Homo sapiens: one gene and its partner. The protein of the gene in region 2 purifies or fractionates together with the protein of the main gene of each other region. This does not show direct contact. Each region holds a gene or a part of one and is shown on either strand. Other genes may lie near its edges.

What was found. Proteins that work in one complex are often made in the same cells at the same time.
Region 1: the proteins of GDF11 (region 2) and ZNF131 purify together in Homo sapiens (affinity purification with mass spectrometry; one large-scale study listed by BioGRID and IntAct). This does not show direct contact.

The regions. Positions count from the first base shown.
Region 1 is NC_000005.10:43,141,414-43,144,913, reverse strand, and holds part of ZNF131 (zinc finger protein 131), read right to left. Parts: intron 1-3,500. UniProt on the Homo sapiens protein: Plays a role during development and organogenesis as well as in the function of the adult central nervous system. May be involved in transcriptional regulation as a repressor of ESR1/ER-alpha signaling.
Region 2 is NC_000012.12:55,746,122-55,749,621, reverse strand, and holds part of GDF11 (growth/differentiation factor 11 preproprotein), read right to left. Parts: intron 1,037-3,500; coding exon 639-1,036; intron 121-638; coding exon 1-120. UniProt on the Homo sapiens protein: Secreted signal that acts globally to regulate anterior/posterior axial patterning during development. May play critical roles in patterning both mesodermal and neural tissues. It is required for proper vertebral patterning and orofacial development.

The sequences.
Region 1 (3,500 bases), on a different chromosome or scaffold from region 2:
TGTTGGCTCTCACCTGAGACCAGAAAGATGAGTAAAATTTTGCCATGAACAAGCAGACAGATGGCATTCCAAGAAATGAAAAGAACATATGCATAATCATGTTATTATGTGGCAGATATTGTTTTAAGAGCTTTACGTGTACCACTTCCTTAAAACATAAATCTAAGACAGGATAAAATATTTGGAGATTTGATCTGACCCACAGCTCACTTTTCAAATAGCCTTAAACACAAGACATTTGTCAAAAAACAATCAATGGCAACTGTTTATCATTGCAACTACTGTGGTGGCATTACAAGTTTGGGCTATCAAGAAGCTGAACAAAAACTGAAAGGAAAAACTGGAGAATGAGATGTTCATAGGGGGCTTTAAAAAGCTCTGACAGACTGGACGTGATGGCTCATGCCTGTCATCCCAGTACTTTGGGAGGTCAAGGCAGGTGGATCACCTGAGGTCAGGAGTTCAAGACCAGCTTGGCCAACATGGTGAAACTCCGACTCTACCAAAAGTAAAAAAAATTAGTTGGGCGTGGTGGTGAGCGCCTATAATCCCAGCTACTCAGGAGGCTGAGGCAGGAGAATCACTTGAACCTGGCAGGCGGAGGTTGCGGTGAGCCAGGATCGTGCCAACACAAAGCTCTGTCTCCAAAAAAAAAAAAAAAAAAAAAAAAAAAAAAGAAAGAAAGAAAAAAAGGCCAGGCGCCGTGGCTCACGCCTGTAATCCCAGCACTTTGGGAGGCCGAGACAAGTGGATCACGAGGTCAGGAGATCGAGACCATCCTGGCTAACACAGTGAAATCTCGTCCCTACTAAAAATACAAAATATTAGCTGGGCGTGGTGGCGAGTGCCTGTAGTCCCAGCTACTCGGGAGGCTGAGGCAGGAGAATAGCGTGAACCTGGGAGGTGGAGCTTGCAGTGAGCCAAGATCGCACCACTGCATTCCAGTCTTGGGGACAGAGCGAGACTCCGTCTCAAGGAAAAAAAAAAAAAAAAAAAAAAAAAAAAAAAAAAAAAAGCTCTGACAATATTCCAGAGAACCTAGAGGGCCATACACATGCACAGAGCTGTATACATGTCCAGGAAAGACCTTAGCAACTCTCATCTCTATCTGACCTTGAGGTTCTGTTAACACAGGAAGTAAAGGCTAAAGCAGTTGTAAACTGCTTGATGGGACACTGATGGTGTACCCTATAAAGAGCTCCCCAACAAAAATGTGGAGACTTACTGGTTTAAGACTTTTAAGAAAATTTCTGTCCAATGATCAGTTTGTTCAGTAAACTACCTATGCAGACTTCAGTGGCCATACACACAAAATGTAGACTGTACAGAATTACAGGAAAGGGATTACAGAAGTCCAGGAAAGTCACTAAACCAGTAACAACAATAAGAAACGATGTCTGGCTCATCTAAACTAGTTCCAGTGGGATAGGAAATTAAGAAACTTCAAATACAGCGTGTAGTTGAAGATGATAAACTTGCAACAGTGGAGAAGCAGATCACTGCTTTTGAGGACTATGTGCAGTCCATGGATGTGGCTGCTTTCAACAAGATCTAAAATCCATCCTGGATCACTGCACTTAAATAAAAGCTTGAGGCCGGGCGCAGTGACTCGTGCTTGTAATCCCAGCACTTTGGGAGGCAGAGGCGGGCAGATCACAAGGTAAAGAGATGAGACCATCCTGGCCAACATGGTGAAAACCCCATCTCTACTAAAAATACAAAAATTAGCTGGGCGTGGTGGCGTGTGCCTGTAGTCCCAGCTACTCGGGAGATTGAGGCAAAGGAATCGCTTGAACCCGGGAAGCAGAGGTTGCAGTGAGCCGAGATCACGCCACTGCACTCCATCCTGGTAACAGTGAGACTCTGTCTTCAAAAAAAAAAAAAAAAGCTTGAAAGATTAAAAAAAGAAACCATGTCTGGCCAAGTATGGTGGCTTATGCCTGCAATCCCGGCACTTTGAGAGGCTGAGGTGGCCACGTCTCTTGAGCCCAGGAGTTCGAGACTAGTAGCCTGGGCAACATGGTGAAATCCTGTCTCTACAAAGAAATACAAAAATTAGCCAGGCATGGTGGCAAGCATCTGTGGTCCCAGCTACTTGGGAGGCTAAGGTGGGAGGATCTCTTGAGGCCGGGAAGTTGAAGCTGCAGTGAGCTGAGATTGTGCCACTGCACTCCAGCCTGGGTGACAAAGCAAGACCCTGTCTCAAAAAACCAAACCAAACCCAAACAAATCATGTCTGAGAGACAGAATGGGGGTGGGGAGGTAGGGGGTGGGATCTAAATAAAACTTATTTAAAAATATCCAATTTTTGGCCGGGTGCCATGGCTCACGCCTATAATCCCAGCACTTTGGGAGGTCGAGGCAGGTGGATCACGAGGTCAGGAGGTCAAGACCAGCCTGGCCAAGACGGTGAAACACCCTCTCTATTAAAAATACAAAAAAATTAGCCGGGTGTGGTGGCGGAAGCCTGTAATCACAGCTACTCGGGAGGCTGAGGCAGAGAATTGCTTGAACCCGGGGGAGGCGGTGGTTGCAGTGAGCCGAGATCTCACCAGTGTACTCTCCAGTCTGGGCGATGGAGTCTTGCTCTGTTGCCCAGGCTGGAGTGCAGTGGCATGATCTCAGCTCACTGCAACCACCGCCTCCCGGGTTCAAGCAATTCTCTGCCTCAGCCTCCCGAGTAGCTGGGATTACAGGCGCCCGCCACAACGCCTGGCTAATTTTTTTTGTATTTTTAGTAGAGATGGGGTTTCACCGTCTTGGCCAGGCTGGTCTTGAACTCCTGACCTAGTGATCCACCCGCCTCGGCCTTCCAAAGTGCTGGGATTACAGGTGTGAGCCACCGTGCCCAGGCCAAAAATCTAATTTTTAACCAAAAAAAATGATGAGACATACAAAGAAACAGTAAAATAAGGCTCATGCATGGGGGAAAAAGTCAACAGAAACCATCTCTGTAGAAGCTTAAACACTGCATTATTATAAACAGCCAACATATAATACTACTGTCTTCCTCTTTTCAAAGGGAACTCTTCAGAACATATTACATGCCTATCTGGTTCAAGAAACAATTCAACATGTTACTGTGTTTATACTGAAAAGCAATGATTGTTTTAGGTACTATTGGAATTCCAGTTTTTTTTTTTTTTGAGACAGGGTCTCATTCTCACCCAGGCTGGAGTGCAGTGGTGCAATCTCGGCTCACTGCAACCTCTGAGTCTCCCATGCTCAAGCGATCGTACCACCTCAGTCTCCTGAGTACCTGGGACTACAGTTGCACGCCACAGTGCCAGCTAATTTTTGTATTTTTCATAGAGTTGGCGTTTCACCATGGTGCCCAGGCTGGTCTCAAACTCCTGAGGTCCAAGTAATCCACCCACCTTGGCCTCCCAAAGTGCTGGGATTACAAGTATCAGCCACTGCGCCAGGCTTGGGATCCCAGTCTTGAATCTTCTCCAAAGTGACATACCACTCACTATCATGAGCAGCAAAAGGGCCACAGA
Region 2 (3,500 bases):
GTCCACTGTGAGGGGATATCGGCAGCAGCGGGACTCGCTTGAGTGCTCGTCGCAGTCCAGACCCAGGTTCCGCCGGGAACGTTTTGTGTTCTCTAGGACTCGAAGCTCCATGAATGGATGCTGAGGGTCAGGGAGAGGGGAAAGAAATGTGATATGGTCCTGAACAGTTCCTCTTCCCTGTTCCTTTCCCACCTGCCAGGGGCATCAGAATAGAGACTGCTGACTTCTCAGCTTTTCCATTGCTCCCACCCCCAGAATTTATCTTTTGCCCACTTTTCTTGCCAGCTAGCTAGCTCTCCTTCAACTCACCATCTCTAATTCTTACTCTTCTGGCAACCTGATCCCTGTCAGCCCCTTGGCCCAACGCCTCAACAGCCAGTTTTTTTGTTCTCACAGCTCTTCCATTAACTGACACCTTTACCTTCAAATCCAGTTTTCAGCTGTTGTCTGATTTGGATCCTTGAGAAGTAATAGTTGCCACCCCACTCCTCACCTCCTCCTCTAGAATCAGCTGCTGACCCCAGAGAAGTAATGCTGGTCCCCAACCTCCTTCACATTCCTTGTCTACCTTTTCCAATGTAACCCTATCTCCTCAGGGCCAGGTTACACATATCCACCACCTCAGGCCCCCTGCTCACCAGCCCCTCGGCTCCCGGCCCCAGGGAGGTGACAGCCAGGTCTGTGCCACTGGGATCAAAGGCGTTGATCTCGATGCCCCAGTTGCTCTGTGGCTGGCGGAACCAGCTGTGTAGCACTTGCTTGAAGTCGATGCTCTGCCAATGGCCTGAGCGTGAGTGCAGCTCAATCTTCAGTGAGCGGATACGGATGTGACGCCGGCCTCCGCCCCCTCCCCCTGCGGTCCCTTCCCCAGTTAGGGGTTTTAGTCGCAAGATCTGCAGGTAGACTGTGGCTGGGCGGGGTACAGGCCGTAGGTACACCCACAGCTGGGCCTTCAGTACCTTTGTGAACATCACCTTGGGGCTGAAGTGAAAATGGCAGCAGAGAGGGCTGCCATCTGTCTGTACTGCTGGGTCCGCTGATAAGAGAGAAGGGCACAGCATCAGCAAAGGGTGTTTGTGTAGGGGATCAGTAGTCCTGGGTGGCACTGGCAATTTTGGACTTCTCAGCCTGATTTTCCAGTTCTTCTTTACCCTTCTCCCATGCCTATCTTATACCATGTCTCCGGTACCTAAAACAGCACTTCCTCTTTAGGATGATGGCCCTATAAGGCCTTACTGATCTGTGTCCATTTCCTAATCCATTTGCCCTAATATATAGGTTCCTGTCTACCAGATAACCTGCAAAATTATTCATCCACCACCATCCTTACTGTCCAACTTTTCCCAGCATATAAGGCTCCAACATTTTCTGAATCTTTGAAGCTCTTTATAGAAGCCATACCTCTTATCACACCTGCTGCCCTTCCATCACCTTTCCCCTATCTGCTCTGATTTATCTGCTGGACAGGTAGAGCCTGGCACATCCCTCCCCCACAAAATAACACAGATGGCCTCAGAGAGGGGATAACCCAGGGTCCAGATAGGGAGCATGAGCTAAATTTATCCCATTATGTAAACCAGAATTCAGATCTAGGCTTCTTGCCTCACTCCCATTAGGAATAACACCCAGCAAAATGGAACTATCCAAGCACTTCCTATACATCTGTCTCCCCATTCTCTCTTAAGAAGTTTCTTCAGCTGCTGCTCCATCATCATCACCATGACTGCCCCCAGCTCTTGAGGAAAGGAATAATTACCTCCATGGTGTTGCCTCCTATTTGCCTAAAGCACCAGAAATAATATTAAATACACCAGATTAACTACAATGCCTTTTTTCTCCCCTGAGCTTCCTTTGACTTCTCAGTCTAGTGCCAGTAGGTCTTTACAAAGTTTGAACATCCCAACTTTACATTTTGACCCATTTCCCCTTGCTCTGGACCTTAAATTGATCCTTCTTGGGTCTAATAGATGATTCTCAATAAATATCTGCCTCTGCCTCCATTCCAGCTCCTCTTCACTGCCTTTCCTAAGTCAGTTGGGAGTGTCCTACAACATGTCTCCATTGGACAGAATATGTCTATCCTGACTCTAGATAGGAAGAATCAGGAATGAGCTTCCAGAGCCATATAAGCAGGGTTAGGAAGTCTAGGCCTTTAAGTATCCTCCCCATGTCTTGAGTTCTGCAAAATCAGGATGGACTTAGGGTGTCCTGTCAGCTCTTCCCCACCCCCACCCTGGGAGAAAGAGGACCTTCTAAGGGAGATGAGGAGAAAGTGCTTAATGAACTTCATATATTCAGGATATGATACCCAAAGTCTCTATAGCTTTTTTTTTTCTTGATTATTCTCTGAGGTCCCAGGGCCCTGGTAGTCCAGTTATTTTACTGGCTGGAGCTTCAGTGATGGTGCAATGGAGTAGGGTTTGGGGGGTGAGAATTCAGAGATCAGAAGTAGCTGGGATAGGGAAGCTACTAGTGAGATGGGGAGTGACAAGCAACATCCCAAATAGCATACTTTACAAATTTCAGCATAAGAATTGTCTATTTTCTTGCCATTAGGTACTAATCTCCATGAGAGTGGACACTGTTGTTATTCATACTGTGTCTGTTTTGCTCACCATTGTAGCTTCAGTGCCTCCCATAGTGCTAGACAGCACTCAATAAATACATGGTGAATGAACTCCCTAAACTCCCAATCTTAAATTATACAGGCAAGTGCCTGAAAGTTCTTCCTGGCATCTAAATTCTGTTCTTTGGCTATAATTGAAGTGGGTTTAATCACTGCCTGATTCCTTACTAACCACTATCTAACCTTACTCACCAAACTTCTCAGTGTGATACAGATAATAATAATTCTTGCTTCACATGAGTGCTGAGCATTAACTAGAGAATGTGAAAATAGGAAACAAACAAACCAACATTTATTGAGAAGCTACTACTATTTTCGCATTCTCTACTAAGCTCTAAACATAACCCTCCCTCTACCTAAGCTGATCCAGGGTTTGAAGATGAGGGCTACATCTAAGTCTTTGGTTCCACATACTTGTCCCAGTGGACAGGGGACAGTCAGTGCTACAAGGAGGTAGAACATAGGGAGAAAGAAAAGAGCAGGGAGAAGAGCCAGGGGAGAGACTGGAGATGGTGAGGGAGATAATAGAGAAGAGACTGTTAAGAGTTGAAGGCATATTAGTAGATATAGGGAGAGAAATAGAAGTTAGAGTGGAAAGATGCAGGGGATAATCATGGCAAAGGGAGAATAAGTTTGAGAGTTTGAGAATCCTGATGCAGAGGCAGTGATAGAAAGGAGTGGGTGATGGTTAGAAAGCTAAAGGTGGGAGGAAGCTAAACCTAGTGGGGTAAAGGAGAGAAAGGATAGAAAGGGTACAGACTGAGGAACAAAGGAGAAGCAGGTAGAGCCACAGAGGGAAACGGGGCTCGAGAGAGTACCCAGCACACATATGCCGAGCTCTGATGGGGAGGAAAAGGGGCCACATCTGTGTTGA